2 separate regions of the Homo sapiens genome follow, and region 2 is linked to region 1. Evidence: fine-mapped expression QTL. A gene starts in region 1. The other region holds a variant in brackets. All regions are shown on one strand. Distances are from middle to middle.

What was found. PIP is the estimated chance that this variant, and not a neighbour inherited with it, causes the effect. A credible set is the group of variants that fine-mapping cannot tell apart.
Region 2: its variant is the best candidate, but not a certain one, in a credible set for the expression of CLOCK in whole blood (INTERVAL, PIP 0.61).

Annotation. Positions count from the first base shown.
Region 1 is chr4:55,537,353-55,553,000 of GRCh38, forward strand. CLOCK (clock circadian regulator) reads right to left here and starts at 9,557. Exons shown (of 23, transcript NM_004898.4): 1 at 9,430-9,557. It overlaps LOC124900704 (a long non-coding RNA gene), which reads left to right and starts at 8,513. Exons shown (of 2, transcript XR_007058122.1): 1 at 8,513-9,258; 2 at 10,264-10,537. It also overlaps the pseudogene RN7SKP30. RefSeq lists silencers at 8,553-9,182, 9,303-9,402, 9,463-9,832.
Region 2 is chr4:55,460,167-55,475,814 of GRCh38, forward strand. CLOCK (clock circadian regulator) reads right to left here. Exons shown (of 23, transcript NM_004898.4): 8 at 10,551-10,640; 9 at 3,519-3,639. Among named protein-coding and RNA genes, the nearest start is that of TMEM165, 72 kb to the left of the region's middle. The variant T/C (reference allele first, on the strand shown) is at 10,234.

The sequences.
Region 1 (15,648 bases):
TTACACCTGTAATCCTAGCACTTTGGGAGGCTGAGGCAAGTGGATTGCCTGAGCTCAGGAGTTGACGACCAGCCTGGGCAACATAGTGAAACCCTATCTCTACAAAAAATACAAAAATTAGCCAGGCATGATGGCACGCGCCTGTAATCCCAGCACTTAATAGACTCTGGTGCGAGGATCTCTTGAGCCTGAGACGTCGACACTGTGGTGACCCCGTGATTGGGCCACTGCACTAAAGCCTAGGCAACGGAGTGAGACCCAGTCTCAAAAAAATAAAAATAAAAATAAAAAATTAGCCAGGCATGGTGGCACATGCCTGCAGTCCCAGCTACTCAGGAGGCTGAGGTGGGAGGATCACTTGAGCCTGAGAGGTCAAGGCTGCAATGGGCCATGATCACGATACTGTACTGCCTGAGCAGTAGTGAGACCTTGTCTCAAAAAACAAATAAATAAATTATAAACAATTAAAGGGAAGTTTATAGCATGCTTACATTAGAAAAGAAAAAAGGTCACAAATCAATGACCTCAGCTTCTATCTTAAGAAACCAGAAAAAGAAAACAAATTAAACCCAAAAGTAAGCTGAGGAAAGGAAATAAAGACCAGGGCGGAAATAAGAAAACCACAGGCAGTCAATTAAACTAAAAGTTAACTTTTTAAGAACCTCAATAAAATTAATAAACTTCTAGCCAGACTAATCAGGGAAAAGGGGAGCAGAGACAAATTACTAGTATTCGGAATGATACTAAATCTCTACAGGTTATACAGATATTAGACTCATTACACTTTCTACAGATATTAAAAGAACAATAATAGAGTATTATAAGCAACTTTTTGCAATAAATGCAACAAGTTAAATGAAATGGGTAAGTTCCTTCGAAAACTTATCAGGCATGTGAAGAGACGGAACAATACAACCATATGACCAATAACCAACAGAAAAACAAACAAGATAAACAGACCAATAGATGATGCCGATATTGGAAAAGACAAGCATTTAAATAACTATAATTAGTATGTTCAAGAGAACTGGAGTCTATTACAAGTCTATAAAACAACATCAAAGGAATACTCTAGAACTCAAAACCACAATGTAAAATTAAGAACACAAAAGATTATTTTGACAAAAAGAGAAGATAGTTTTGGCATACTGGAAGGCAGGTCGATAGAAAATATCCAAACAGAGAAAAAAATTTTTTTCAACATGTGGAACATGATAATTAAGTTTAATATATGTGTAATTAGGATCCAAAAAGAAAAAAGGGGCAGAATATATGAAAAGGTGGTAACAGAACTTTCCAAAACTAAAAGGCATCCAGCTAGATTCAAAAAACTCTATAAACATAAAGCAACAAAGAAAACCACATCTGAACACATCAAAGTGCTTTAAAAGTAACACAGAGAGTCTTAAAATTAGCCAAGGAAAAATAAAAGACACATTATCCTCAGCAAGAATATAGCTAATACATTGCCTTCAATAAGACTGGTAGCTGACTTCAACAAAAAGAAAGGAAGACAGAAAGCAACCAAACATTCTTAATGTGTTGAAAGAAAATAACTACCAACTTAGAACTTAATAGCCAGTGAAAACACACTTCAGGCCAGCCACAGTGGCTCATGCCTGTAATCCTAGCACTTTGGGAGGCCAAGGTGGGCAGATCACTTGAGGCCATGAGTTTGGAGACCTGCGTGGCCAACATGGCAAAATCCTATCTCTACTAAAAATACAAAAAATTTAGCTGGGTATGGTAGCACATGCCTGTAATCCCAGCTACTCAGGAGGCTGTGGCATGAGAATCATTTGAACCCAGGAGGCAGAAGCTGCAGTGAGCTCAGATCACGCCACTGCACTCCAGCCTAAGCAACAGAACGAGACTGTCTCAAAAAAACAACAACAACAACAACAAAAAAAACACCAAAAACCACTTCAAAAAAGGTGAAACTGCCGTGCATGGTGGCTCACACCTATACCCAGCACTTTGGGAGGCCAAGGTGGGGGGATCTCTTAAGCCCAGGAGTTCAAGAACAGCCGGGGCAACATGACAAGACCCCGCCTATACAAAAAATTTAAAAATTAGCTGGGCATGGTGGCATGTGCCTGTGGTTCCAGCTACTGAGGAGGCTGAGGTGAAGGATTGCCTGAGCCCAAAAGGTTGAGGCTACAGTGAGCCATGTTCACACCACTACACTCCAGCCTGGGTGCCAGAGTGAGACCTTGTCTCAAAAAAAAAAAAAAAAAAAAAAAAAAAAGGTGAAATTGAGATATTTTCAGAGAAACAAAAATAGAAAAAATCACTGATACTAGGTAGGCCAGTATCAAAATGCATGATATAGGGAAGTGACAGTATTATTATCCTAAAAATTGAAAACAACTTCAATGTCCAACAGAAGATTGATAAGTAAATTATTACACAGAGATGAGAATGTTACATACCTACTAAAAATAATCACATAGCAGAAAAATACTGACATGAAAATATGTTGATGATTCACTGTTAACTGAACAGCTTGCACTGCAGTGGACTACATTAGGAGCCCATAACATCATATAAGTATACATATACTTATGTAATGGCTCAACAAAATGCAGGAAGCAGATAGATAATCAAGAAGATTAACAACAGCACTTTCGGTGGTATGATCTCCAATGATATTAATTTTTTTTTTTTTTTTTTGAGACTGAGTCTTGATCTGTCGCACAGGCTGGAGTGCAATGGCGTGATCTCTGCTCACTGCAACCTCTGCCTCCTGGGTTCAAGCAATTCTCCTGCCTTAGCCTCCCAAGTAGCTGGGATTACAGGCACCCGCCACCATGCCCGGCTAATTTTTGTACTTTTAGTAGAGACAGGGTTTCACCATGTTGGCCAGGCTGGTCTCAAACTCCTGACCTCAAGTGATCCACCCACCTCAGCCTCCGAAAGTGCTGGGATTACAGGTGTGAGCCACTGTGCCCTGCCTAAAATGTAATCTATGCTTTCTTACTGTTTCCCACATTAGGGATGTGCTATTTTTTAATTGGGGGCAAGAGAGGAGGGGAGAGGAGGGGAGGGGAGGGGAGGGGGGAATGGAGAAAGGCAACTCTTTACATTAAACCATATTTTAATACAAATGATAAGTTCTTAGCTAGGCATATGGTCTAACCTTTATTGGTATATCCCCCATGTGTGCTTTTTAATTTTTTTTTGATACCAAAACCTGCCAACATGAATCAACCTGTACTTTCATTTTCCACTATTTGGACCTTGAGAGCTTGCTCGAAGGTTCTAGCAGGGGAGCGCAGCTGCTCGTATACCCTTGACCCAAGACCAGTCCTCCTCTATTTGGGATGGTTGTCCTCTTCAACCAAGCACGCAGCTTCAGCTTCAGGAGGGACGCACGTGGAGTGGAGAGGGAGGAAGGGGACACCTGCCGAGCCAGCCAGATGAGCTGAATCAACCCTGGGGATCAATGGGGTAACATGTCACAGCCAGATAGCCCTCACATTCAATTTTCCACTATTTGGGATGAGAATTAAAAATGTTAAGTACCTGAATGTGACCTCTTTGAAAAAGAAACTTAATCGTCGTCATTATTAATGTAAAAAATGAAAATGTTTCTGAAAAATGAAAAGCAAATTATATCCGAAACAGCATACTTTAAAAGACAAAGTAATTCATAAAATTTCATTTTTCACAAGTGATTTCTGTAGACTTCTAAGACTTAAAATTAACAGAATTACATCTCTGTGAAATATCCAACTAAAGTAATAACTCAGAGTTGAGGCTATAAGAGTAAGTTTAAATAATTCAACATTTGCATAATCAAAAAAATGGAAAAAAACAGGAATCTCGGTATCCACCTGTTTCACAGAAGTTACACCTAATAGGGCTTTTAATAAATGGTTGTAAAGCAACCTGTAAATATAAATGCCATTATGTAATTATAGTCAATTAGTAACAATTATATTGCTCTGACACTTGAGTGTTCTATAAATAATTCATACAACTCCATCTAGAATTTTTGATCCAGAAAAGGAGAAAATGCAACAGCCATTGGTGTAATGCCTACAAGGAACTTAAAAAATATTTTACTTTATGCATCTGTAAAAAACTATAAGGAAACAGATAAACATCAAAAGGTTTAGCTACAGTGCAGAACTTTGACTTTTCCCCCACAATATTGTTTTATTAAAATAGTCACAGTAAATAAATGCTTTATTTGACACAGCACTAGAAGTAAAAATGTGTGGAAGAGGTGACATAATATATATGCTTCAAGATTGAGATAAGAGGAAACAATTTTCTTTTAATATTAACACTGGCTGACATATTTGATGGTAGACAACAGTTAACTGATAGGATTTAATTTCCTAATTTTTCTAGCAATCCTGAAATGATTAAAGAGGCTGTATTATAATTATCAAATAAAACATCAAATGGTTCTTTCCAGCGGGAAAGCTTAAAAAAAACTACTGAAATAGCTATCAGTCTCACAGATGCCTGCTAAAAGAACATAACAACTCCTTACGTTATCAAGAGCTAAGATCTAAGTTTCCTTTCTTAACTAATTAAAAGGTTAAGATACGTATTCTCCCTCAAAATCCCATGCCTCTCCCCCCACCAAAAAAAAAAAAAACAGCCAGAAATAGGCTCATCCTTACAAATGTTGTATGTAATTTTCTTATAAAATCTATCATTTTCCACCTTGTGTTATAATGTCTATGCTTTTCAGTTGGGCATGGTGGCTCATGCCTGTAATCCCAGCACTTTGGGAGGCCGAGGTGGGCGGATCACCTGAGGTCAGCAGTTTGAGACCAGCCCGGCCAACATGGAGAAACACCGTTGTCTACTAAAAATACAAAAATTAGCCGGGTGTGGTGGCAGATACCTGTAATCCCAGCTACTCTTGGAGGGCTAAGGCAGGAGAATCGCTTGAACCAAGGAGGCGGAGGTTGCAGTGAGCTGAGATCACGCCACTGCACTCCAGCCCGGGTGACAGAGAGAGACTCTGTCTCAAATAATAATAATAATAATAATAATAATAATAATAATATTATTATTATTATTATTATTAATGTCTATGCTGTTTTAACCATACTAGATTTCAAAACCACTGAAGGCAGGGTCAATTATACTGCATCTTTCTAGGTATCTCCCATAGTAAATAGTCTTGATCAATACTCTGAACTTTTTGCAAACTCCATCAGCTAAAAAGAATTAAGGTTTGGTAATTCTTTGTAACCTGGTTTAAAACAAACCCTCTGGAACTATTAGAGAACCAGAGGGATGGATGGAGGAGAGGGTAGTGCATATTAGTTGTTTGTTGTCAGTTAAGCAAAAGCCAAACCAAAGAGCCTCTTCTCTCCTTTTCCCTTCAAAAGCTAAATTTTATCCAAGTCAGTATCAGTGTCCCTTAGTTAAGGACAGTCTGCTTAGGTTCACTTCAGAGGAGCTCAAGAGGCTGGTGTAATCTACGAGGCTTTCGTAGGAGTCTGCAAGCAAGTACAGAAGGAAAAAAAATCAAAGTTTAACCCATACACTATCGATCAAGTCAAAAGCCAAAGAAAACCCTAAAACTTGGACTCTAAAGAGTCCTATAAAATTCATGGAATCCAAGCACCTTTTGGGTTTGTTTTGTTTAAAACAGGGTGTCACTCTGTCACCAAGGCTGAACTCCTGGGTTCAAGTGATCCCTCCACCTCAGCCTCCCAATTAGCTGAAACTACGGTGTGCACCACCCCATCTGGCTAATTTTTTTTAAAAAAATTTTGTAGCAAAGAGGTCTCACTATGTTGCCCAGGCTGGTCCTGAAATCCTGGGCTCAAGCCATTCTCCCACCTCGGCCGCTCGAAGTTTACAGTGAATTAAATCTATACCAGATAAAACTCACATCAGTATGACCTCCCTTCAAACTCTGCAAATGCCTCCATAACAATTGGCCCCTCACTAGTGAAAAGATGAGTATGACCTATGGTCTATATCAGATGTTAAGCTTTCTGACAGGCTCCAAGTCATGTCCCTGTCCTGTAGGTAATAACAGAGCCCATACTGGAGGCAAAATGGCAAAGCAGATGATCATTCAAGATGATTCCGTTTTCAAGGCTGAAAAGAACATATTTGCAAATGCACAGAAAAAGATCTACAAGATCATACAGTGGTGTTAACAGTGTTACCCTTCAGTCAAGGGTATACGAGTAGCTGTGCTCCCTAGATTCCTCTGGGGAGGAATGTGAGCTAGAAGTGGATGTAAAGGGGTTGTCACTTATTATATATACACTGTATTAACTTTTTATGAGCATCAATTTACTTCTGTAATTTTAAAAATAAGAGTCCCAGCTACTCGGGAGGCTGAGGCAGGAGAATCTCTTGAACCTGGGAGCCGGAGGTTGCAGTGAGCCAAGATCGTGCCACTGCACTCCGGCCTGGTGACAGAGCAAGACTCCGTCTCCAAAAAAAAAAAAAATTGAAATGTAATTCCATTTTTAAAAAAGATTGAACGGACCCACATGGAATTCAAATGAAAAATAAGTGACACTTTGCAGAAGTCTATTAGAAAAACCTACATATCAAACAGAAATAATATAAGTATCCTATCCTACAAAATAAAAAGGAATACTGGTAATATTACAAAAATGCCCACAGCAACTGCAATCCATTACTCACTATTCACTACTTTCATTACACAATATTAGTCACCAGGGGGAGTTTGAGGGTCCCCTCCCAAAATTATATCTCATCTAACAGCTGCCTGTGCAGTCTTAACCTCATTAAACAGGTTTTCAACAATCCAGTCCTAAAAAAATGTTCATTTTGTACACTTTCATGAGAAACAACCAGACACACACACACACACACACACACACACACACACCCCAATTTACCTTTCACTGGGGTTCATGTTTGATTTCCTCAAAAGAAAGAAAAGTTTCCCAACCTGAAAAGCAAACTAACCTAGACAATCAAGTTTACTAGCACTTTAAGGGAATGTTCACATCCTCCTCATAATTGTTTGTCATGAAACTTTGGGGTTAAGTAAAATTTTACCCATCTATGACTCCTGAAAAAAAGAGGAGGGGGAAACACAAACTACACTCTGAAAGCAGCATAATCCAGCCATAATGCCAAATGTAAACAGTCATATATTTTAGCAAGGCAAGATATAACTAAACATCTTTAAAAGATAAATGCCTGTGACCTCTGCAATCTTAAAAATTAAAGTGTAAATAGTCATAAAAGGTATCCCAAACTTCCTTTTTAGTTGATTTTCCTAAAAAATATGAAAAGCAATCATATTGAAAATGACTCAAATCACCATAAATTAGGCAACAAAAATCACACAAATTATTTGGGGGAGGAGGATTTTTGTTTAATCCAGTTTATGAGTCCATAATACACACAAAAATTTGAAAACATGAAGACATACACATAATACATCTCATTTCCCACCATTCCCTCAGACTATTTCTCCCTCTCCTCTATTGTTAGTTTTCTAAATCCTCCCATAATTTCTTTATATAAAGAGCAAACATAAACTTGTATTATTACACCTCGCCCTTAAGATGTAACACACTATTCACAAAGTACCGCTACACCTTGCTTTTTTCACTTCATAGCAAATTTTTGCAATCTTTGCATGTTAGTACGTAGAAAGCTTCCTTATTCTTTTTTCATAACTGATTACGCCTAGCTTTAGAACATTTTCAGTCTGCTTTCTTCAGGCTAACTTTTTTTTTTTTTACTTTTTTTATTATTATACTTTAAGTTCTAGGGTACATGTGCACAACGTGCAGGTTTGTCACATATGTATAAATGTGCCACGCTGGTGTGCTGCACCCATTAACTCGTCGTTTACATTAGGTATTTCTCCTAATGCTACAGGCTAACCTTTCAAGACATTCTGTTCAGCCAACCACTTATCACAGGAATTAATTTCCTTCCCCCAAGCTTTGAAAACCAATCAGATTTGAGGTGTCCCAAGGGATAAGTTTCAGAGAAAGCAATTCATTATCTAAATTACATCCTTTTAAGAATGTTTATTTTCAAACAGGTAGAGGGGAATATTGCACAATTTTCTCTAATCGCTTAAAGCTACAAATCAGAACGCAATCTTCAAAGTGAAATTACCTTTGATTTGGGGGGATCAGCGTTATAGTCAAATCAACGACTGTAAAAGTTTACTTCTTGTGCTTTTCTTCCACTGTAAAAATTTTTTTATTTTTTAAAGAAGGCTAAAAAGCCTTAAAGTCTAATAGCACGGCATTCTAATAGCAGGAAACCACAATCTGATTTGATCTTTCATCTGCCAGGTCAGAGACTAGGCTTTTATCTTGCAGAATTAGGCTCACCTACCATCAACAAGAGGACCTCTACAAAGCTACAAACACTTTCAAAGAATATAAACTCTGCGGCGCTGCGTGTAGGAAATTACACTCCAGGGGCCAGAGCGCCAGAGCCAACTCCAGAAAACCCAGCTTCACTGGCGGAAAGAAATCTACAAACGCCAGCGGCGGTGACGGGGAACGGGAAGCGCGGGTGGACGGAAGAAGAGAAACCGAGCGCCTCGCCGCCAACCCTCGAACCCGCGCGCGGTCGCTGGAGTCAGACGCTAATAGCCGCGCGCTGCCTAGGAACGGAACCCCGGAACCACCACCACTAACGGAACCAGCCCGCGGCCGGCAACGGCGGCCGTTCGGACTGCGGACTGCGGCACGCGGGCCGGGCGCCGGGAGGGCGGGGGTTCCCCGGAGGAGCTGGCCGCCCCGGCGCCCCATTGGGCGCTGCTCCAAACGTGCCCGAGTGGTGACAGGAATAAAGTGGGTCACAAGGCCTAGCGGGTCCCCAGCGAAAGCTCTCTCGGCACCCGGTCCCCGTCTTTCCCCGCCTCCCAGCTGCTGGAATCGGCCGCAGCTCCGGGCGCCCTCAAGCCGCCCGGCCCCGCCGTGCACCCCACTCCCGCCCCTGCCCCGCAGGTAACCCCAGCTGCCCCAGAGGGCCTCTCAGGCAGGGCGGGCCTCGGCCCGAAGTCCCGGGAAAAGACACACTAGAACGACACGCCAAACTTGGGCTTCAGCTCCCGCCTTCCCCACCCTTGGCCGCCGCCCCCCGGCCCCACACACGCCGCCCCCCGCTCCCTCCCCTTCCCCGCGCCCTCACCGTGTGGCTTGCGGCGGCTCCGGCTTCTTCCCTCCCCCACCCAGGTCTCCCGCTGCGGTGACTCGGAACCACTACCCCGCCTGTGTCCAGGAGGCGCCGCGGCTCCCACCTCCAGCAGCACCTGGGGCTGTGAGTGGCGCCCCCCACCCACCCCCCCAAAAATTCGCCGCTCCTGTGGCCAGCTCCTCCTCCCCCTCCCTTCCCTTCCCCTCCTCCACCAGCCCAGGAGCGCGCATGCGCCGCCAAGGAAGCCAACCGGCACTCGGCAGGCCCTGGGCCCACCGGGCGGGCGCCTCTCACCGGGAGCGCTCGCGGCGGCGGCGGCCAGATTTCCTTCGCGCTCTCGCTCTCCGGGGTTTCCTTTTTTAAACCGGCAGCCGCAAGCCGAGTCCGTGATTGCGCCCCCTCCCGGCGCATGCGTCGTCAGCGACCCCGCGGGCTCAGACGGCCGGCGGAGGCTCTGCGCTCGCCCCTCCCCTCACTCTCCCTTTCCCCAGCGCGGCTCGGTGCGCATGCGACTTGCCCCGTTAGGCAGCACGGAGCCGCGCCAGGGGATCCCGGACGCCCGAAGAGACTCCCGCGCCCCTTGGGCCGAAATCTGGCTCTGCAGGCGCACCGTTCCCTGCCCCGGCCGGGAACGGCGCCGGTTACTAGAAAGCCGGGGAGGCGGGGCCTGGTCGGGTGGAGGGCGCGGCCGGCCGGCAGAGCGCTAGCCTTAGGTCCTGGAGGCTCTTTGGCTTTCCCCCCGTATGCCGGGGGCTAGGAGGAGGAAGAAGAGCTTCCTGCCGGATGAGGGATCCAGAGGCCAGAAAAGGAACCCGCTCTCCCTTCCAAAGCAAAACACTGCCGACGCCAGCTTAGATTTTTCGGGTGTTGGCAGGAGACTTTTTCCCCCAGTGGCATCATTCGTGTTTCCTCTCCTGGTGCTGGGAGAGAAGAGTTGCAAAGGCGCCTGGACCGCCAGTAACATCTTCTCCCATCTCCTGAGGGAGCGCGGCTTGGGTTGCTTCTTCTTGGTGGGTGGGCCTGGGGAGACAGGGCATGCGCCCTCGGCCAGAGGAGGGAAGCGAAAGGAGGTCGGGATTTATTTGCTCATTTGGAGATTTTTCCCTTGCCCTTTTATTAAAAATCAAGTGACAGTGTAATGGAAGATGGAGAATGAAGCATCAGAAATAAACCAGGACCCTAATTTGCATGGATTTCCTCGTTGGAACAACGTGTGACTACTACTTATCTTCGGGAAATTACTTATCTTGATGCGTTAAGGCACATTTGGTCCACATGAGAAAGCACATTTCAGTGCTTCTACTGGAAAAGAGATCTTTACAGTCTTAATTCCTAGTAATTCCTATGTTTTAATGAATATCTTTTGGATTTGAAATAAAAGCCATCTTTTTCTTTCAAAAAATGCACTTTTCTGGCCGTAAAATCCTCCCTTTAAAGTAACAGTCACCTCAGTAAACATTTTCAATTCTTGCTGTATGCTCTGGGCAAAAGAACATCAAACTGAAGCACTTATTCAGATCCTTGATCCTGCACCTAAGGATTTTTCTTTCAGGAGTGGGAAAACATGATTTGTTAATTTACCCCATCATATAGCAGAAGATATTTTGGTCGACATTTTTGCCTGTTCAGCATTCATTCCCTATTCTGATAATTTCTTTTGAAGAACTATCATTTATCCACTCTCAGTCCATATGGTCTGAGCAGGACACAAGGGGAAGGCATATTTGAGTTTAATCCTCGGTTGCAAACTACGGTTCCTAAGAAGGGTGTTACGTCTTTACCAATGGGTTTAAATCTGGGAGAATGGAGACCTGGAGCCATCTTTCCACACGTGAATTCTGAGAAAGAAGGCAACACGGAAAAAAAGCAGATTTGAAGACAGGTTTGGCCTAAAGACATGTTTGAGGCCTGGAAACAAATGTAGATTAGATTCCTCTGGAAATTTCGTTAAACCAGTCAGTAAATTCTTGCATCTGTTTTATTGCTTAAACCAGTGAGAGGTTTTCTTTCACATGTAATCAAGAGTCCCGACTGACAAGAGGTAGGTAGCAAGACGGAGGCAAAGTTATTAATACTGATAAGGTAGGTTGCAGCCAGACAAGAGAGGGCTTGAATGCTTTCCCTAGGATGGATTTTTGAATTTTATTCTAGAGACACTGATCCCTCCTTATATTCCCCATCATCTAGAACATATTATCTTCAAAATACCTTTGCCCTTTTTAATGATTTCATTGTCCTCTCAGTCACCAAGATCAAACCATGTCCATCTTTGACTCCTCCCTCTTTCACTGTATTTAATTATTTACCAAGACCTGTTGATAATCCCCCGTTTTTCTGCTCAGTCCTCTCTCACTGCTTGAACATTTCCCATGGTTCAGTTCACAGCTTCTCCTTTCTCCCACATTCTCTCCAAGAAAAGAAAAAATGTACTGGATATGTCTTTTTTTTGAGACAGATTTTTTGAGACAGAGTCTTGCTCTGTTGCCCAGCTGGAGTACAGTGGCATGATCTCAGCTCACTGAAACCTCTGCCTCCCGGGTTCAAGCAATTCTTGTGCCTCAGCCTTCCAAGTAGCTGTGATTACAGACTCCCACCACCACACCAGCTAATTTTTGTATTTTTAGTAGAGATGGGGTTCCACCATGTTGGCCAGGCTGGTCTTGAACTCCTGGCCTCAAGTGATCCACCCACCTCAGCCACCCAAAGTGCTGGGATTAACAGGCGCGAGCCACTGTACCCAGCCTGTATTGGATATTTCCAATAGCTTTTCCAACTTCCAGATCCCACATTTCCATAAAACAAAAATCCTGCCTCATAATTTCATAGCTCCTAAATTTATATTCCATAGCCTTAAACATAATTTCAGATATTCTGTTCACCCTTTCTTGTGAACCTTGCTATCATTTAAACTGAGTATTTCCAACTCCTCTGTCAACTGATTTCCCCCAGTTGGTAGGCAACGTATCATAGTGGTTAAGAGTACAAAATTAGGATCTTAACTGCCTGGATTTAAATCATAGCTTCACCACTAATATTCTGCATGACTTTAAGCAAGTTATTTCTCTGTTCTTTAATTTCGTCATCTTTAAAATGGGATAATTACAATCCTATCTCATAGCTTAACCGAGACAGTGTGTGTGTCTGTGTGTGTGTAATTTTATCTGGTACATAAGAAATCCCATAGAAATGTTGGCTATTCTTGTCAATGATGTTCCTTTTTGGGTAATTTTCATGTCTCTTTTGCTCTAATTCTTGCCCTAACTCCTATGTCCCATCAGTCACAAAGTCATATCTGTTCTTTCATAGTAACTCATCCATTCATTGACATTCCTAGTTTTACTACCATACTTTAAGGTGAATTGGAGAACAGGAAGCTTTAAGATATGCTTAATAGAGAATATAAGGTTAAGTATTTTTTTAAAGCTTGCATAGTTTATTCAGTTACTCATATTCTTTCTAATCCCTTTAAAATGGAACTACAAAACCCTGCCTCATAGTTGAGGTAGTATTATAGACTTTGTGGTCAAAACTCTTGGCTTAAATTCTGACTCATGCTGAGAGATAGTGAGCAAATCAAGTAATTCCTCTGAGCTTCAGGTACTTATCTGTAAAGTTACAAGACTAGGCATTTCAGAGAACTGTGATGATCAAAGGTAAATTAAACTGCTACATAAAGGCTAGGTGGTGACGATGGTGGTTGTAAATCTTTACAATTTCTTGTTGGAACCCTAAGAATAGTTGAAATGACTCACAGATTTTTAACTCCAGCCTTCACTTCTCCCTTGGGCTCTATACACACGTCTGTTTATCTACCTGATGTCTCTTCTTCTGTATCACAAATATCTTGGATGCTTCTTTCAATCTATTCTCCACAGAGCAGTCAAATTATTTTGAAAATATAAGTGAAGTCACATTATTTTCTTCTAAAACCCCTTTTGTCATTTCCCATTACATACAAATTCCTAATTATGGTCACAATAACCTGTTTGATCTGGCCCCTCCCTACCTCTCCAACCTCATGTCTTACCATTTTTTTCCTTTTCCTGTGACACTCCAACCCAGAAACTGCCTTTCATTTCTTTGCTAATTTATCTCTGCTCTCAGGCTTTCATGCATGCTGTGCCCTTGCCTGGACCCCTCCTACCTTTTCTCATGGCTGGCTCCTTCTCAACCATCACATCTCAAAGATCTAACTACCCTATTTAAGTAGGTCTCCCTCCAACACCCCACCTGCCCCCCCACCACCAATAATATCCAAAGTTATTCTCTTCTGTTGTGTCCAGTTTCCCCCATAATACTTAAGTTTAAATTATGTATATATTAGTTATATGTATATATGATATTTGTTTTCTTATTAACTATTTTCCCTACCACCACAAGATAAACTCCAGAAGGGCGAGAACCATGTGTTTTCTTTGCCACTATACGTGTAGCATCCATTTCAATACCTCAGGTGAGCTGGGTAGAGTGACACGTACATGTAGTTCCAGCTGAGCCGGGAGGATTGCTTGAGCCCAGGAGTTAAGGAACAGCCTGGGCAATGTAGCAAGACCCCATCACTAAAATAAATTAATTAAAATTTAAAAATAAAAACCAGGTTGGGTGTGGTACCTCAAGTCTGTAATCCCAGCACTTTGGGAGGCCAAGGCAGGCAGATCACTTGAGGTCAGGAGTTTGAGACCAGCCTGGCCAACATGGTGAAACCCTGTCTCTACTAAAAAATACAAAAAAATTCGCCAGGTGTGGTGGTGCATGTCTATAGTCTGAGGCTTAGGCAGGAAAATCACTTGAACCTGGGAGGCAGTATCTGCAGTGAGCCCAGTTCGTGCTGCTGCACTCCAGCCTGGGTGACAGAGCAAGAGTCAGTCGAGGCAGGATAATCACTTGAACCTGGGAGGCAGAGGCTGCAGTAAGCCCAGATCGTGCTGCTGCACTCCACCCTGGGTGACAGAGCAAGTCTGTCTCAAACAAACAAAACCACCAATGCCTGAGGTGAATGAATGATTTAATGAGTGAATGAAATGCCAGAAAGATGATTTTTAGAATCATCTTTGTCCCAAATTATGACTGTAGGCAGATTATTGTCAAGGGGTAGCCTTAGTAATGTGCATGAAAGTGTGTCCGGAATTTATTCCTTCCGGTGGGTTCCTGGTCTCACTGACTTCAAGAATGAAACCATGGACCCTTGCAGTGAGTGTTACAGCTCTTAAAGATGGTGTGTCTGGAGTTTGTTCCTTCAGATGTTCAGATGTGTCCAGAATTTCTTCCTTCCAGTGGGTTTGTGGTCTTGCTGACTTCAGGAGTGAAGCCGCAGACTTTTACAGTGAGTGTTACAGCTCTTAAAGGTGGTGTGTCCGCAGTTTGTTCCTCCTGGTGGGTTCATGGTCTCGCTCACTTCAGGAATGAAGCTGCAGACCCCCACAGTGAGTGTTACAGCTCATAAAGGTAGTGTGGACCCAAACAGTGAGCAGCAGCAAGAGTTATTGTTAAGAGTGAAAGAACAAACCTTCCGCAGTGTAGAAGGGGGGGCCGAGCAGGTTGCTGCTGCTGGATTGGGTGCCAGCTTTTATTCCCTTATTTGGCCCCGCCCACATCCTGCTGATTGGTCCATTTTACAGAGCACTGATTGGTCCATTTTACAGAATGCTGATTGGTCCATTTTACAGAGTGCTGATGGTGCGTTTACAATCCTTTAGACACAGAGTGCTTTAGACATAGAGTGCTGATTGGTGTGTTTACAATCCTTCTTAGCTAGACACAGAATGCTGATTGGTGCGTTTTTACAGAGTGCTGACTGGTGCATTTACAATCCTTTAGCTAGACACAGAGCGCTGATTAGTGCATTTACAATCCTTTAGCTAGACACAAAAATTCTCCAAGTCCCCACCCAACCCAGAAGCCCAGCTGGCTTCACCTCTCAAAAGTACAAAAGAGAAGCAAACTAAAATCAGTCAGTGAAATATGATGTGACTAATACCGTTCTAGTGATTGAATACTTGAGAACCAGCAAGAATATGTAACACTAATAGATACAGCTAATACTTGTAAAAAAGATGCTGACTGAAATCTAAAATAGGGTACAAGTGCATGAAGTACCTCAACTTCTAAACAGCTGCCAACATTTGGGGTCAGATACCCACTCCTTCACCCAAGGATAAAAGTTGGACAAAAAGGGATCTACCATAGCCAAAACCTCCAACTCTCTACCCTCAGACCACATAAGTTCAACACTTGGCAAGAGGAAAAACACCTGACAGAATCACTGAAGCCAGGTTCCTGGGGTGTACTATGGTTTTTCCTTTCCTTTTTATGCCTCACCCTATCCCAAGTGAACAAGACTCCAACAGAATCAGCTAGGTGACTATGAGGGAGGGAGAGTGGCATCTCATTCACTATCAAACTTGCTGATATTGCCTTGTACCTACATGAAACAGGAAAAGAGTTGGAGAAATAGCTGGCCAGGGAGTGGGCTGAAATAAAGCAATCTGCAACATCTACCATGTGGTATAGCAA
Region 2 (15,648 bases), 77 kb before region 1:
GATTTTTCATTTCCACTTCTTAAAAGTCATCCTTTGTCATTCCCACAGCATAAACTTACCTTCCCACCTTACTGACTATTCCTATCTCTTCTGCTAATCCATTTTCATACTAGGGGTTTTCACAAAGGTTCTTCTGATCCTAAATCTCTCTCTCCAACTCTAGCATTTTACGTGAGACAAAGTTACCTATCATTTGCTTTCAGGACATTCGAACTTGATTGTCCCATTAGTAACTTAAATTCAAAATACTTGAAAGTGAATTTATCTTTCTTTCAAGCTCCCTTCGTCTATGTATGCTTATTTCCCAAGTTAGAAACCGTTAACAATTTGGTCTCTTCTCTTCCCATCACAAGTCCCAAACCTAATCTGTCATGAAGACCTGCTACTTATTTCACCAAGGAAGCCTGCCAATTTAGTGCAGTTGCAAATTACCTTGCATCTAGGTAACCGAAATATGTATTCATTATGCCTCCACATTCTGCCACTCTGATTCAGTCTTGTCTATTACTCTTAGACTTGTAATTACTTTCATGGTATTATTTCCGCACTCAAGGACTAGTAACACCTTTCTTTGCTCACTACTTCAAGCTTATATTCTTCGGTTATTATCATCATAGATGGCTTTATCATCTAACCTAATCAGTAAAAATCTATCTATCTTCAACCTTCCCCACTGATGATTCTTAGTCACTTGGTCACCTGAGCCTACCACATCAAGTCCTATTGAGTTTACACACTTAACAGTCATATACTTTCCTCTCCTTTTTTTTTTTTTGAGACAAAGTCTCATTCTGTCACCCAGCCTGGACTACAGTGACATGATCTCAGCTCACTGCAACCTCTGCCTCCTGGGCTCAAGTGATCCTCCAGCTCAGCCTCGAGTAGCAGGAACTACAGACATGTGCCACCACACCCCAGCCAACTTTTCTATTTCTCTTTATTGTATAGACGGTGTTTCACCATGTTGCCCATGCTGGTCTTGAACTCCTGGGCTCAAGCGATCTGCCTGCCTTGGCCTCCCAAAGTGCTGAGATTATAGGCGTGAACAACTGTGCTCAGCCCATCCTTACTTTTATTGCTAGGATTATATGGTTTTCCTTTTTGTCTCCCAGTCTGGTCCTTTTCAAAATTTTCTACCTGAGTGATTTTTTTTAATCTCCCAAACCAGATGACGAAAGTGGCAGCAACTTTTATAAGCAAGGTACTGCTGCTCTTTCTAGGCCAGAGATGCTGGTGAAAGATGCTTTCATTGCAATGAAGACCTGGACCTCCATGAGGCAAAACAGCTGTTACAGGAAAAGTAGTCATAGCTACTGTACCAGGCAGGATGGCCAGCTTGATCATCAGAATGGTCTGATCCATAAGATCTCTGGTTGTGTTTAACTGAACCCTAGGAATGAAACTGAGGAGTAACTCCATAAAGCTATCACTTGATTTGTATAGTAGGAAATCTGCAGGTCAGGTGAGCACAGCCTGAGTTGAGCCACTATGATGAGAAATCCAGGGCTCTTATTCAGCTCTCAGACTCAGGGTCTCTTTATGAAGCAGAAGCCAGGTAAGCCTGGGGTAGGCAACCCACTGCTGCAAGTCTTCTTCCTAGCCTTCTCCAAATGAACTTTCCACTATTTACCTGATTTTGTTTTTCCTTTTTTTGCAGATAACAAAACTACCCAAATCTCCTTCACTGGCTCTCTACTCTGTAAAAAATAAAACTCAAATTCCTTAGCCCCTTTATAATTCTGTCCTTATTCTTTCTCTAGACACAAATTTTACCACCTGTACAACCTCAACTTCATTATGGCCAAAATGACCTACCAAATTTTCTAAGCAATTTTCTCTGTGTTTTAACTTGTGTTTATTCTTTTGGCATGAAACTTTCTTTTTTCTGGGGCAAGAACTCTTTTGTATATCACTTGTTTAACTAGGAGATCAGCAAGCCATTTAATTAAGACTTTTCTTAAGTATTCTTGCCATTTTCATTTCTGTTCTTGGAAGCAGAAGCCTAAGCTCTTTCTGCCAAAGGCTTTTATTTAGTTCTCCAGTCGATTTTATTCTTAGTAGGGTCTTCAAAGCAAACGCCTTCTCCTTTGTCTTCCTATTGCTATCTCCAAAGGGTTCCACCTTTCTTTCTTTTTTTTGAGACAGAGTCTCGCTCTATCGCCCAGGCTGGAATGCAGTGGTGTGATCTTGACTCATTGCAAACTCAGCCTCCGGGGTTCAAGCAATTATCCTACCTTAGTCTCCCAAGTAGCTGGGACTACAGGCATGCACCACCATGCTCAGCTAATTTTTGGTAGAGATGGGGTTTCGCCATGTTGGCCAGGCTGGTCTCAAACTCGTAGCCTCAAGTGGTCTGCCCACCTCAGCCTCCCAAAGTGCTGGGATTACAGGCATGAGCTACCGGGCCTGGCTGGCTTCCACCTTTCTAATTTTTCTCTCCTTGTTCTACGTATTTACCTCAAGCAATCCATTCCATCCATGGCTTCAAATACTAATTGTAGGTATCTATTATATACAGCCTAAATCTTTCTAAGTACCAGACTAGAGTGGCCTAATGGTCAATGTCATATGAACTTGGTTTTAAAACAAGGCTTGAAATGAATTCTCCAACTCTAGTTTTTCTCAACTCTCGCTGAAAGGCCATCCACTCTTACCAAAGTTATAGATACACACAGATTTGTGTGAGTGTGTGTGTGTGTGTATCTCAATTTTTAGACAGTATGCTATAGAATTTGAGGATTCAAATACAAAGAATCTTTAAGATAATGTCAGTATTAGCAGATGAGACACATTTAAAAATAATGAAAAAGGTGATTAAACAAGGTATCTAATAGCTAATGGTGAAATGTACTGCTGTAACAATTCTGGATTTTATACAGGGTAATATATGAAGAAAATGAGGTACTCCGGTCAAATAAATTTGTCAATGGACCTAGTAGAAATGTCTGATTCTACCATAATATGTTGTGTATCTTGATGGTGATAACTATTTTCACTATTGTTGATATTTTTATGATACAGCACAAGTACCTAGCAAATTAGATACATCTAACAAATGACTGTTTAATTGTTTAATAAAGTAGATAATTTATCTTTATATTTAATAATTTTAAAAGAAACATAGAAATTTTTTCCAGTTTGAGTGTCCAATTGGTTAACAATGGTGAAAATTAGAATGTTTAATTTTCCCTTATTAAATACAGTAAAGTTTTATTTATAAATTAATAACTATATATTGCCAGGTCTCACTTTTGCATAAAATACAGCTTTATGGCATAATGGGAGTCCAGGATTTATTATAACAAATAAGATGGGATTTCAATATACACTGAAATAGATTACAGATTTTTAATATGGTCACAATTTCATTTTATATATATTTTAATATTGAAAAAGGACCTAATAGGGCATATGGAGTAATGCTGTATTTAAAGAAGTCTGTATTTTTCATAAACTTGCAAAAGGATAGTGCTACTGAATACAACATTTGACTTTTTTGCTTAACAGCTACTACTTACATTTTAAATATTCTGGGGTTAATGAATCACTTTCCAGCAGATGAGTAGAGAGTATTTTATAAACCTCTGAATGTTCCCCTTCTGGGATAAAATTAAATATACTTTGATCCACAAGATCAGACTGAAAAGAAAATTGTTAAAAGTAAAATAACTTCAATGATTCAAGAGACAATTGCTTTAAAAGTACATAATCGCTATTAAACACAGCAGTTAACTTTCAATTATCTGTGAAAACCAACAAATGTCAAGTTATAGACCAAATCTCAAAAAATAAGATTGAGATCATACTAACGTCATCCAATCCATGACCAATATGACCTTGAAAGCCTGATAAATTATTTGCAAAGCTGTGTTTCACCAAAATGTTCTGAACATTTCAAAATACAACGGGACCAAGAGAGTTAATAAGAAAAATCTCTGGCGACAAGTCATAGCCTTACCATATACTCAAACCTATGGTAAACAATGGTGGTATATCCTACTATAAAGGACTATGCACAAGCTAAATAAAGAGGAGATTTTGTTTTGGTGTGATTTCAATTGTCCAATGTGTCCTTTATTTCATCTTTTCCTGGCATTTATCCTGCATCCCATTGTACAAAAGCCTTGTGTTTAGTTATCCCCCCTCAAAAGGACAACTAATATGTTAAGCATTAGAATTCTTGTTAATACACAGCTTTAATCGTGATTAATCAATAGCAATTTGACAAACATCAGGTTGGCTACAATGTGCCACGGCTGTGGAATCAAAGATGAATAAGATAGTTTCTATACTTAAGTACCACTGATAACAAAACTTCCATGACTTTACATTTGCCACTACGCATTCTACCTGGTTTCCTGCGTTTCAAACTGCTCTGTGGAATCCTAGGGATGCTGAGACAGTATCTCAAGGCCTGTAAAGGTAGGACTAGAGGGTGGGGAAGTAAAAAGGAGCTGAGAAGCAGGGCCCAGGGTCCTGCCCCTGCATTAAACTAAAGCAGTTATACTTTTTGTTTTTATTTTATGCATCTGTGAAGATTTTGTTTGAAGAGCTCCACTGCTTAAAAACAAAAAACATACAACAACAAACAGAGGCAGTAAGAATGGTGAGAGGGGAGAAAGGGGTGTTGTATTAGGTTGGTGCCATACTTTTAATAACAAAAACCGCAATCACTTTTGCACCAACCTAATACTATTCTTCATATAGGCCACACATTCCCATCATTTCTTCTGTCTTTTCTCCAGCCCTCCAAGCCCACTCCATGAAGTGAGATGACCTTCCCCCCTCTCTACATATCTGTATCTTTCCCCTTTCAAAGACCAGTTCAAATTACTTCTTTCAAGAAAGCATTCCCTTAACACCATAATCCACATTAAAAATAAAATTCTTTTATTATTTATTACTTGTATTATTCATTTCCCATTTAGCAGAATTCAGCCAACCATGGATCAAAACTATTCAGGAAAAACAAAAAACAGATGGTTGTGTCTGTACTGAATACGTGCATTTTTCTAATCGTTCCCTAAACACTATAGTATAACACATATTTACATTGTATTAGTTATTATAAATAATCTAGAAATGATTTAATGTATGTAAATGGGAAGATGTGTGTAAGTTACATGTAAATACAACACCATTTTATCTATGCGGCTTGATGATCCATGGATTTTGGTATCTGCAGCGGGTCCTGGAACCAACCAATTCCCCCATGGATACCAAAGGATGACTATATTTTAATGTCTATGTCCTGTTGCCCTATAGCTGAATAAAAGGGGCCTATCTCTTACACCTTTATCTTTCTCACTTCCAATCAGGGCACATTAACACCGTGCCTTGTGTTTAACAGTTATTAGTAAAATAAATGATTTTAGACTAAGGAGGTATTTGATAATGGCTTAAGGGATAACCACACCAAAAATATATCTGTATTTCAGTAAAGGATTTTTCTGGAAGTCTGAAAAGCCTCTACAACTAAAGGAGTGAACTAAAAATTCAGGGATGGCTGGGTGCAGTGGTCATGCCTGTAATCCCAGCACTTTGGGAGGCTGAGGCAGGTGGACTGTCTGAGGTCATCAGTTCAAGACCAGCCTGGCTAACATGGAGAAACCTTGTCTCTACGAAAAACACAAAAATTAGCTGGGCATGGTGGTGTGCACCTATAATCACAGCTACTCAGGAGGCTGAGGCAGGAGAATCGCTTGAATCCAGGAGGCAGAGGCTGCAGTGAGCTGATATCCTACCACTACACTCAAGCCTGGGTGACAGAATAAGACTCTGTCTCAAAAAATAATAACAATAAATAGGCCTGAATAACACAAATGCTAGAAAGTTGCCTTCTACTGACAAAATAAAGAATCAAAATATAGTATATGATATTGATGCAAAAAATAATCTGATATGGTTTGGCTGTGTCCCCACCCAAATCTCATCTTGTTGTTCCCATAATCCCCATGTGTCATGGGAGGGGCTGAGTGGGAGGTGATTGAATCATGGGGGAAGTTACCTCCATGCTGATGTTCTCGTGATAGTGAGTGAGTTTTCCCAAGTTCTGATGGTTTTGTAAGGGGCTTTTCCCCTTTTGGCTCAGCACTTCTGCTTCCTGCTGCCATGTGAAGAGGGACGTGTTTGCTTCCCCTTCCGCCATGACTGTAAGTTTCCTGAGGCCTCCCCAGCCATGCCAAACTGTGAGTCAATTAAACCTCTTTCCTTTATAAACTACCCAGTCTTGGGGAGTCCTTTATAGCAGTGTGACAACAGACTAATACATCATCTTAATAGAAAAACATGCCACCAACTTGAAATATTAATAGGAACTAAAATTTTCATTTTTGAGAATGATTATAGTTTTCTACTATTATTTGTTACTAACAATTTCTTCTACTACTATTTGGTAAATTATGATGTGACCTATCTTATCCTTGTTTTTTCATCTATAACTTCATAGGATGTTTCATATTCATAGAGAAAAGAAAATGAATGCCTGTATCAAGAGTAGTATGATCACAAGCAATGCCTGCCCCAACAATTCTGCCTCTCCTGCCACTTTAATAGGTGTCAAACTTTCCATTAACCACTACACTTAAAATCTCTAAATGAGGCTGACCATACTTTATGTGACCATACATACACTCAGTTCTCAAACACAATCAAACGTAAGAAAAGAAAATGGTAACTACTTGGATCTTTTTATCTCCCTTACTCGTTTCATGAAAAGGAAATATAAGTTCTGCTGATTTACTTATATGACATAAATCAGTAGCCTTTGTTTTTTCTACATTAGGTCAACGTTACCATTTAGTGATTGGATGACACAAACAATTTTTTAAAATCTAGAAGATGTTAATAACAGAGGAAACTGGGTATAGTGCACATGGGAATTCTCTGTACTACCTTGTCCATTTTTCTGTACATCTAAAAATGGTTCTAAAATTAAAAATATTTTTTAAAATGTCCAGAAGAAAATGGGAAGGTGACAGGGTTTTTATTGAGGGAAGTGTTAATCAAACACTTCAATTCCAATGAGATCTATCACATGTTGTCTATTTCAAAGGGCAATTAAACTCACTAAAGATTAGAAAGGGATTTTTTTAAAACAGTCAAATCAAGTAGCACACTCATTTTCATACATTCAACAAATAATCACTGAGTGACGCTCCAAGGAACTAGCTAGCTCCTCTGGATGCAGAGATAAAGTTCCTGCCTTTAAGAAGCTACAACTACCATAACTATCCAAATAAACAGAAAATTATAATTCTCTGTATCATGACAGTAGTACATACAAGGTAACAGTAGAACAGAGATGAAGGGCATCGAATTTTGAATGGAATTCAAGCAAGTGCCAAGAAGCAGGCTTTGAGAAAGTGTGAACACATTGCAAATGATGCTCTATGACTAGATTATATAGTTTCTGTAAACATGACAAAACCTAATACAGTTATATATGGTTTAAAAGCATACAATTATACTTATTTTAAATTACTTAGACATTATCTTAATCCTATAATGGGATTCTTTCCCTGGGTTTTCTTGCTATGAAAACAAATTTTTTTAAGTTGTCCAGAAAACTCAGTTAATCAGTCTGTCCTTTTTTCTGCCTATGCTAGTTTACTTATGCATTGCTAATATCTCATGTTTTACTCTCAAACATGTTTTTAAATGTTGGGCTTATCCTACTATTTGAGCTTACTAGAAAATAAAGCCCCAGAAGAGCAGTAAAGTCAAAGTTATTTTCTGTATGAACCAAAGAAATTAGCAAATTATGTACTGCATGGCTTTCAACTTTAAAAAATGCCCCCTTGAGAGCCTGGACTTTTAAGTGCTAAAATCCATTGATTCTCTTTATAAGGTATGAAGTATCAGAGTAATCAGAGGGAGAGAAATACCACTTTTCAGTATCTCTTGAAAGAGACACTTACAAGCAGAATTACTTTACCCTGTTATAGAGATAAGCTATTTTTTTAATTTTTTTGTAGAGACAGGATGCTTCACTGTGCTGCCCAGGCTGGTCTTGAATTCCTGGCCTCAAGCAATCCTCCCACCACAGCCTCTGAAAGCATTAGCATTAAAGGTGTGAGCCACTGCACCCAGAGAGAGGCATTATAAGAGTAGTTTATAAGTAACTTTAGAATATTTATACCATGAGCTCCATCTTCAATAACATCATTACATATTAAAAACTGAAAACTCCCCCCAAAAGCCTATCAGCTGTGGCACAGCACCTAGCATGGTGTCTGGCACAGAGCAGATATTAATAAATACACATTAGAAAAAAAGTAAGCACATAAACCAGGTATTCACCATCCTAATGAAACAAAATATACTTTTCTAATTCTCTATCCTTCTGGTCATATAGATAATGAATTAAAATATGGCCAATATGACATTATCAGTTCAAAGTCACATAGCATAAAAAGTTCTGTATCTACTATTTTTAGAGTGTTTTTTATAAGTAATTCTATTGAGAAAAATATTTACAAGTTGCCCTAATTGCAACAAGTATCTCAGCAGAAATTTAGTTATTCTCAAGACATTCTCAGTGATTTAACATTTTCAACAGGCTGATTAAAATGGAAACGCTAAAAAGTTAGCATTAGAATAAAGAAGACAGGAAGAAGAGGGGTCAGATAAAGTGGTAAGACCTTGCACTGCATAACAATGTTTTGGTCAACATTGGACTGCATATATGACCACCGGTGGCCCTAAGATTACAGTGGAGCTGAAACATTCCTACTGTCTAGTGATGTCATATCTGTTGTAATGTCATAGATCAATGCATTAGTCATCCTTTGCACTTGTGCTTGTGGTGATGCTTGTGTAAACAAACCTACTGTGCCACCAATCATATAAAAGTTTAGCACATAAAATTATATACAGTACACATGTACATGATAATAAACAATCATCTTACTAGTTTATGTATTTACTATACTTTTAATGATTTAGAGTATTCTCTATTTACATTTTTTTTTTTTTGAGATGGAGTTTCGCTCTTGTTGCCCAGGCTGGAGTGCAATGGCTCGATCTCGGCTCACCGCAACCTCTGCCTCCCAGGTTCAGGCGATTCTACAGGCATGTGCCACCACGCCCGGCTAATTTTGTATTTTTAGTAGACACAGGGTCTCTCCATGTTGGTCAGGCTGGTCTCAAACTCTCAACCTCAGGTGATCTGCATGCCTCGGCCTCCCAAAAGTGCAGGGATTACAGGCATTAGCCACCACACCCAGACTTATATATATATTTTTAAGTTAACTCTAAAACAGCCTCAGGCTGGTCCTTTAGGAGGTATTTCAAAAGGGCACTGTTATTACAGGAGATGACTCCATGCCTATTGTTTCTCCTGAAGACCCTCCAATGGGACAAGATGTGGAGGTGGAGGACAGTGATGTTGATGATCCTGACCCCGCGTAGGCCTAGGCTAATGTGTGTATGTTTGTGTCTTAGTTTTACAAATGTTTAAAAAGTTAAAAAAAGTTTTTTAAATAGAAAAAAGCTTTTGAAATAAAGACATAAAGAAAGGAAATATTTTTGTACAGCTATATGATATATTTGTGTTTCTGAGGCAGGGTCTTGCTCTGTCACCCAGGCTGGAGTGCAGTGGCACCATCACGGCCCACTGTAGCCTTGGCCTCCTAGGCTCAATGCAATCCTCCTACTAGAGCCTCCGGATTAACTGGGACCACAGGTGCATACCACGACACTTGGCTAATTTTTATGTTTTTTTAAAGACAGGGTTTCACCATGTTGCCCAGGCTGGTCTCAAATGCCTGAGCTCAAGCAATCTGCCAGCCTTGGCTTCCCAAAGTATTAAGCTAAGTGTTACTACAAGAGTAAAAAAGTTAAAAAAAAATTTTAAGTTTACACAGTAAAAAAGTTATAATAAGCTAAGGCTAATTATTATTGAAGAAAACATTTTTATATAAAGTAGCCTAAGTGTACAGTGTTTATAAAGTCTATAAAGGTGTACAGTACTGTCTTAGTCCTTCACATTCACTTATCACTCACTCACTGACTCACCCAAAGCAACTTCCAGTCCTGCAAGTTTCATTCATGGTGAGTGCCCTATACAGGTATACCATTTTTTACCTTTGAGACTGTACTTTTTATTGTACCTTTTCTATGTTTAGGTATTTTTAAACATATAAATACTGTGTTACAACTGCCTATAGTAGTATTCAGTACAGCGGCATGCTGTACAGATTGTAGTCTAAGAGCAACAGGCTATATATACCA[T/C]ATAGCCTAAGTGCGTAGTAGGTTACACATCGAGGTTTTTATAAGTATACTCTATGATGTTCACACAGTGACAAAAGTGCCTCAGAACATATTCCCATTATTTAGTGATGCATAACTATAGTTGAATATTAAGTTACTACAGATTAGTTATGACTGAGCTGAGAAAACACATGCTGAAACAAAGACATACTTAGAGCTCTGATTCCTACCCCTTTAACGACTGTTGTACACTGCTCTCAAAGTCCACTTCCCAGTGCTTTAGAATATTTAAAATAGGCATTTTAATACGAAGTAGATTGTAGGATCTTTATACTTACTGGTAAATGTTCAAGTAATGAAGTTACACTCTCAGACACATATATTATGCTTCCATCTGTCATGATTGCTAAAAAAAAACCATCAAGAGCCTGAAATTAAACATAATGATATGTTAAATGAAAAGAAAAAAGTATTTTGCAGGACAGAAATAAAAATTTGAGATAAATGACAAAGGATTTAATATGGAAATATCCAAAGTTCTGTCAAAATATAATACTAGCTTTCCCCCTTTACAATACCTTGGTATGTATCTTTGTTCATTTTTAAATGCTTCTGGAGAAAAAAAGTCTCTCTCTGGCCATCTATTGGACAACTGGTCTCTAAAAGATAGAGACAATGTTCTACCTTCATCACTAGGTATATTACATGATCCAATCATGTATATACAGTATTATGGCTTATTTGAAGATGCTAATGTCTCCAAAGCATACAAGACATCAACAATGTTTTGTAGGCACACAAAGGAATACTTTGTTATTATCATGGATATGTTAACACAGAGGTGTACATCTGAAGTTTAAGGAGATATATGAAGAATAAAATAAAAGGGAGTAGCAGGAAATTAAGGTGAAAAATTAGGCTGAGTTCATATCATAAAAGGCTTTGAATATAAGGTTAAGACATAAGAATTTTATTCCGTATACAATGGTAAGCCAACAGAAGATTTTAGGGCAGGGGGCTGTGCTTCAATAAGAGTAGTGTGGAAGCAGGGTGTAAAATGGATTTAGAGGGAAAAGAAAATTCAGTTAGGAAAATCATAGTGGCTTTTGGACTAATTAAGGAAGTTAATGGGAATCTGAATGAAATCAGTAGTATTAGGAATAAAGAAAAGTACTTCGAGCAAGCATTGAGAAATGTGAAGTTCGATTTCAGAAGAGAAGTCAGAGCAGGGAGTACAAGACTTAATAAAAATGCAATTTTGTATTTTATACACTACAATGTATTTTCATTTGAGAATCCTAGGCACAGAAGTGACAGCTGAAGAAATGAGATCTACAAAAGACAAATCCTGGAAGAATTATCTACATATAAGGGATGAGGAAGAGAAAAAGGCCAGAGAAAATGACAGAGAAGCCTGCGTGCAGTGGCTTACGCCTGTGATGGTAGCAATTTGGGAAGCCAAGGCGGGAAGATCACTTGAACCCAGGAGTTTGAGACCAGCCTGAGCAACATGGCGAAACCTTGTCTCTGAAAAAAAATTAAAAAATTAGCCAGGTGTGGTGGCACATGCCTATGGTCCCAGCTGCTTGGGAGGCTGAGGCGAGATCACTTGAGCCCAGGAAGTTGAGGCTGCAATGAGCCACGACCATGTCACTGCACTCCAGCCTGAGCAACAGAGTGAGACCCTGTCTCAAAATAGTAATAAAAATTGAAATTACAAAAAAGAAAATGATAGAGAAGACAGAATACACTGTCGTCAAGGAATCAATGGAAGAAAGAATGACAAAGTGAAGAGGAGAGGAATGGTTTGGTATAAAATGAGATAAAGAATAAGAAAATGAGAAATGAATTTTGGTGATTTTCAAAAAGTTATGTTAACAGGAAGGCAAGTCGGACTACAATGAGTTTAAAAATGAGTACAAAATCAGAAGGCTATTACAAGTCACTCATTCATGAACTTTAGAAGGGAAGAAAAAGGCAAACAGTTCTAAGGGGGTGAAGTATCAAGAGAAGGCATTTGAAAAAAGAGCAAGTATATTTGTAGTCTAAGGGAAAGGAAGATCCAGTGGAGAAGAAGTAGAAGATACACAGCACAAAAGATACTATAAAAGGGATTCTTCTATTAAAATGGTCAATACACTAAATTCTAATTTCTTGTTTACTTAAATGGCTCTCGAAAAGGATAGTGACCTCTGATAGGAACCATGTATATCTTATTAATCCTTGTATCTGCAGCACTAGTGTAGCGCAAGTAAAAATACTTGCAGTATATAATTTATAGAGCTGGGAGTTAGAGTAACCTTTCCTAACTCTATGTAATTGACGAATATATAGAAAATGGTCCCCTCCCCCTTGTCCCCCCCCTTCTTTTGGGAAAGAGATCTGGATATCACAAAGAACTTATTTTAAGTAGATGCCTATCTTCTAGAATGGCTCAAACAAACCCAGTCTTTGCTAATATAGAAGTAGAAATCTTGTCATTCGAGCAAACTCATGAATTATTTTTTTAAATCCTTTAGTACAATAATGCCAGTATTATTATTTCATAATAGGGTCAAAAGTAGACAACTGTTCGCCAGGCTTACACCTGTAATCCCAGCACTTTGGGAGGCCAAGGTTGGTGGATCACCTGAGGCTGAGTTTGAGACCAGCCTGACCAACATGGTGAAAGCTCGTCTCTACTAAAAATAAAAAAAATTAGCTCGGCGTGGTGACACATGCCTGTAATCCCAGTTACTTGGGAGGCTAAAGCGGAAGAATCACTTGAATCTGGGAGGCAGAGGTTGCAGTGGGCAGATTGTGCCACTGCACTCCAGCCTGGGCGACTAAGCAAGACTCCGTCTCCCAAAAAAAAAAAAAGAAGACAAGTGTTCCTCAATTTCCCCATCTGAAAGCAAGAAACAGATACTATTGTCTACTTCATAATACCAGCTATTATGACACACAGATACTAGTGTTTACTTCATAAGAGTATTGTAAGGATTCAGTGAGTTAATATATAAAAATTATTCACTTATTTTTCTGATTTAAAGTACAGGTTTAAATGTTTATAATATATTTATACTCTAACAAATTTTCGTATGGTAACATTTCTGCTGAATACATAAAGAATTAATCACACAATTAATTGTCCCATCTAAAATACAAACAGAAAAATAACTCAATTTGCAAAATACTCTACCTTGCTTCAGACTTGAGACGTGGCTATAATCTATTTATACAGGCATACCTTGTTTTATTGTGCTTCGCTTTATTGAACTTCAGTTACTGGGTTTTGTTTTGCTTTTTGTTTTTTCACAAAGTGAAGGTTTGTAGCAACCCTGGGTCAAGCAAGTCTATCAGCATCATTTTTTTTAATAGTATGTGTTCACTTTGTGTCTCTTGTGTCACATTTTGGTAATTCTTGCAATATTTCAAACTTTTTCCATTATTATTATATCTGTAATGGTGATTCGCCCACATAAGGTGGCGAATTTAAATGTTGTGTGTGCTCTGACTGCTCCACCAACTCACTGGCCATTCCCCCATCCCTCTCCCTCTCCTTGGAGCTCCCCATTCCCTGAGACATACAACAATACTGAAATTAGGCCAATTAATAACTCTACAATGGCCTTTAAGTATTCAAGTGAAAGGAAGAGTCCCTCATCTCTGACTTTAAATCAAAAGCTAGATGTGATTAAGCTTAGTGAGGAAGGCATGTCGAAAACTGAGACAGGCCAAAAGCTAGACCTCTTGCAACCAAACAAGTAGCAAAGTTGTGAATGAAAAAGAAAAGTTTTAGTGAACACATGTATGATAAGAAAGTGAAAACAGCCTTATTCCTGATATGGAGAAAGTTTGAGTGGTCTGTACAGAAGATCAAACCAGCCACAACATCCCCTTAAGCCAAAGCCTAATCCAGAGGCCTTAATGCTCTTCAATTCTGTGAAGGCAGAGAGAGTTAAGGAAACTACAGAAGAAAAGTTAGAAGAGAACAGAGGTAGGTTCATGAGGTATAAGGAAAGAGGCCATCTCCATAACATAAAAGTGCAAGGTGAAGCAGCAAGTGCTGATGTAGAAGCTAGAGCAAGTGATCCGGGAGACCTGGGTAAGATCATTGATGAAGGTCGCTACACTAGATACCAGAGTTTCAGTGCAGATGAAACAGCCTTCTATTGGGAGAAGATGCCATCTAGAACTTTCGTAGTTAGAAAGGAGAAGCCAAAGCTGGCTTCAAAGCTTCAAAAGACAAGCTAACTCTCTTGTCAGGGGCAAATGCAGCTGGTGACTTTTAAGTTGAAGCCAATGTTCATTTGCCATTCTGAAAGTCCCAAAGCCCTTAAGAAGTATGCCCTATAAATAGAGCAACAAACCCTGGATGACAGGACATCTGATGACAGCACATCTGTTGACAACATGGCTTACTGAATATTTAAAGCCCACTGTTGAGACCTACTGGTCAGAAAAATAGATTTCTTTCAAAATACTATTGCTCGCTGACAATGTACTTGGTAGCCCAAGAGTGCTGATGGAGATGTACAAGGAGATTAATGTTGTTTTCATGCCTGCTAACACAATACCCATTCTGCAGCCCATGGGTCAAGGAATAATTTTGACTTTCAAGTCTTATTTAAGAAATACACTTCATAAGGCTACAGTTCCCATAGATAGTGATTCATGTGATGGATCTGGGCAAAGTCAACTGAAAACCTTCTGGAAAGAATTCACCCGTCTAGATGGCATGAGAAGATTTCTGATTCATGGGAGAAGGTCAAAATATCAACATTACCAAGAGTTAAGAAGAAGTTGATTACTTGTGGATAACTTTGAGGGGTTCAAGATGTCAGTGAAGGAAGTAACTGCAGATGTGGTAGAAACGGCAAGAGAATTAGAATTAAAAGTGGAGTCTGAAGATGTGACTGATTGCTGCAATCTGCTAATAAACCCGAACTGATGAGGAGTTGCTCCACTGATGAGTAAACAAAGTGATTTCTTGAGATCGACTCTACTCCTGAAGAAGATGTGAATACTGTTGACATGACAGCAAAGGATACAGAATATTACATAAATTTAGTTGATAGAGCAGCAGCAGGGTTTGAGAGTACTGACTGTAATTTTGAAAGAAGTTCTACTCTGGGTAAAATGCTATCAAACAGCACTGCATGTTACAGAGAAATCTTGAAAGGAAGAGTGAATCAGTGTGGCAAACTTCATTGCTGACTCATTTTAAGAAATTGCCGTAGCCACCCCAACCTTCAGCAACCACCACCCTAATCAGTTAGTAGCCACTGACACTGAGGCAATACCTTCCACCAGCAAAAAGATTAAGACTTGCTGAAGGCTCAGATGATTGTTAGCATTTTTTAGCAATAAAGTATTTTTAAATTTAGGTATGATCAGTATTTTTTATATAATGTTATTACACACCTAATAGACTACAGGGAAACAAAACAATTC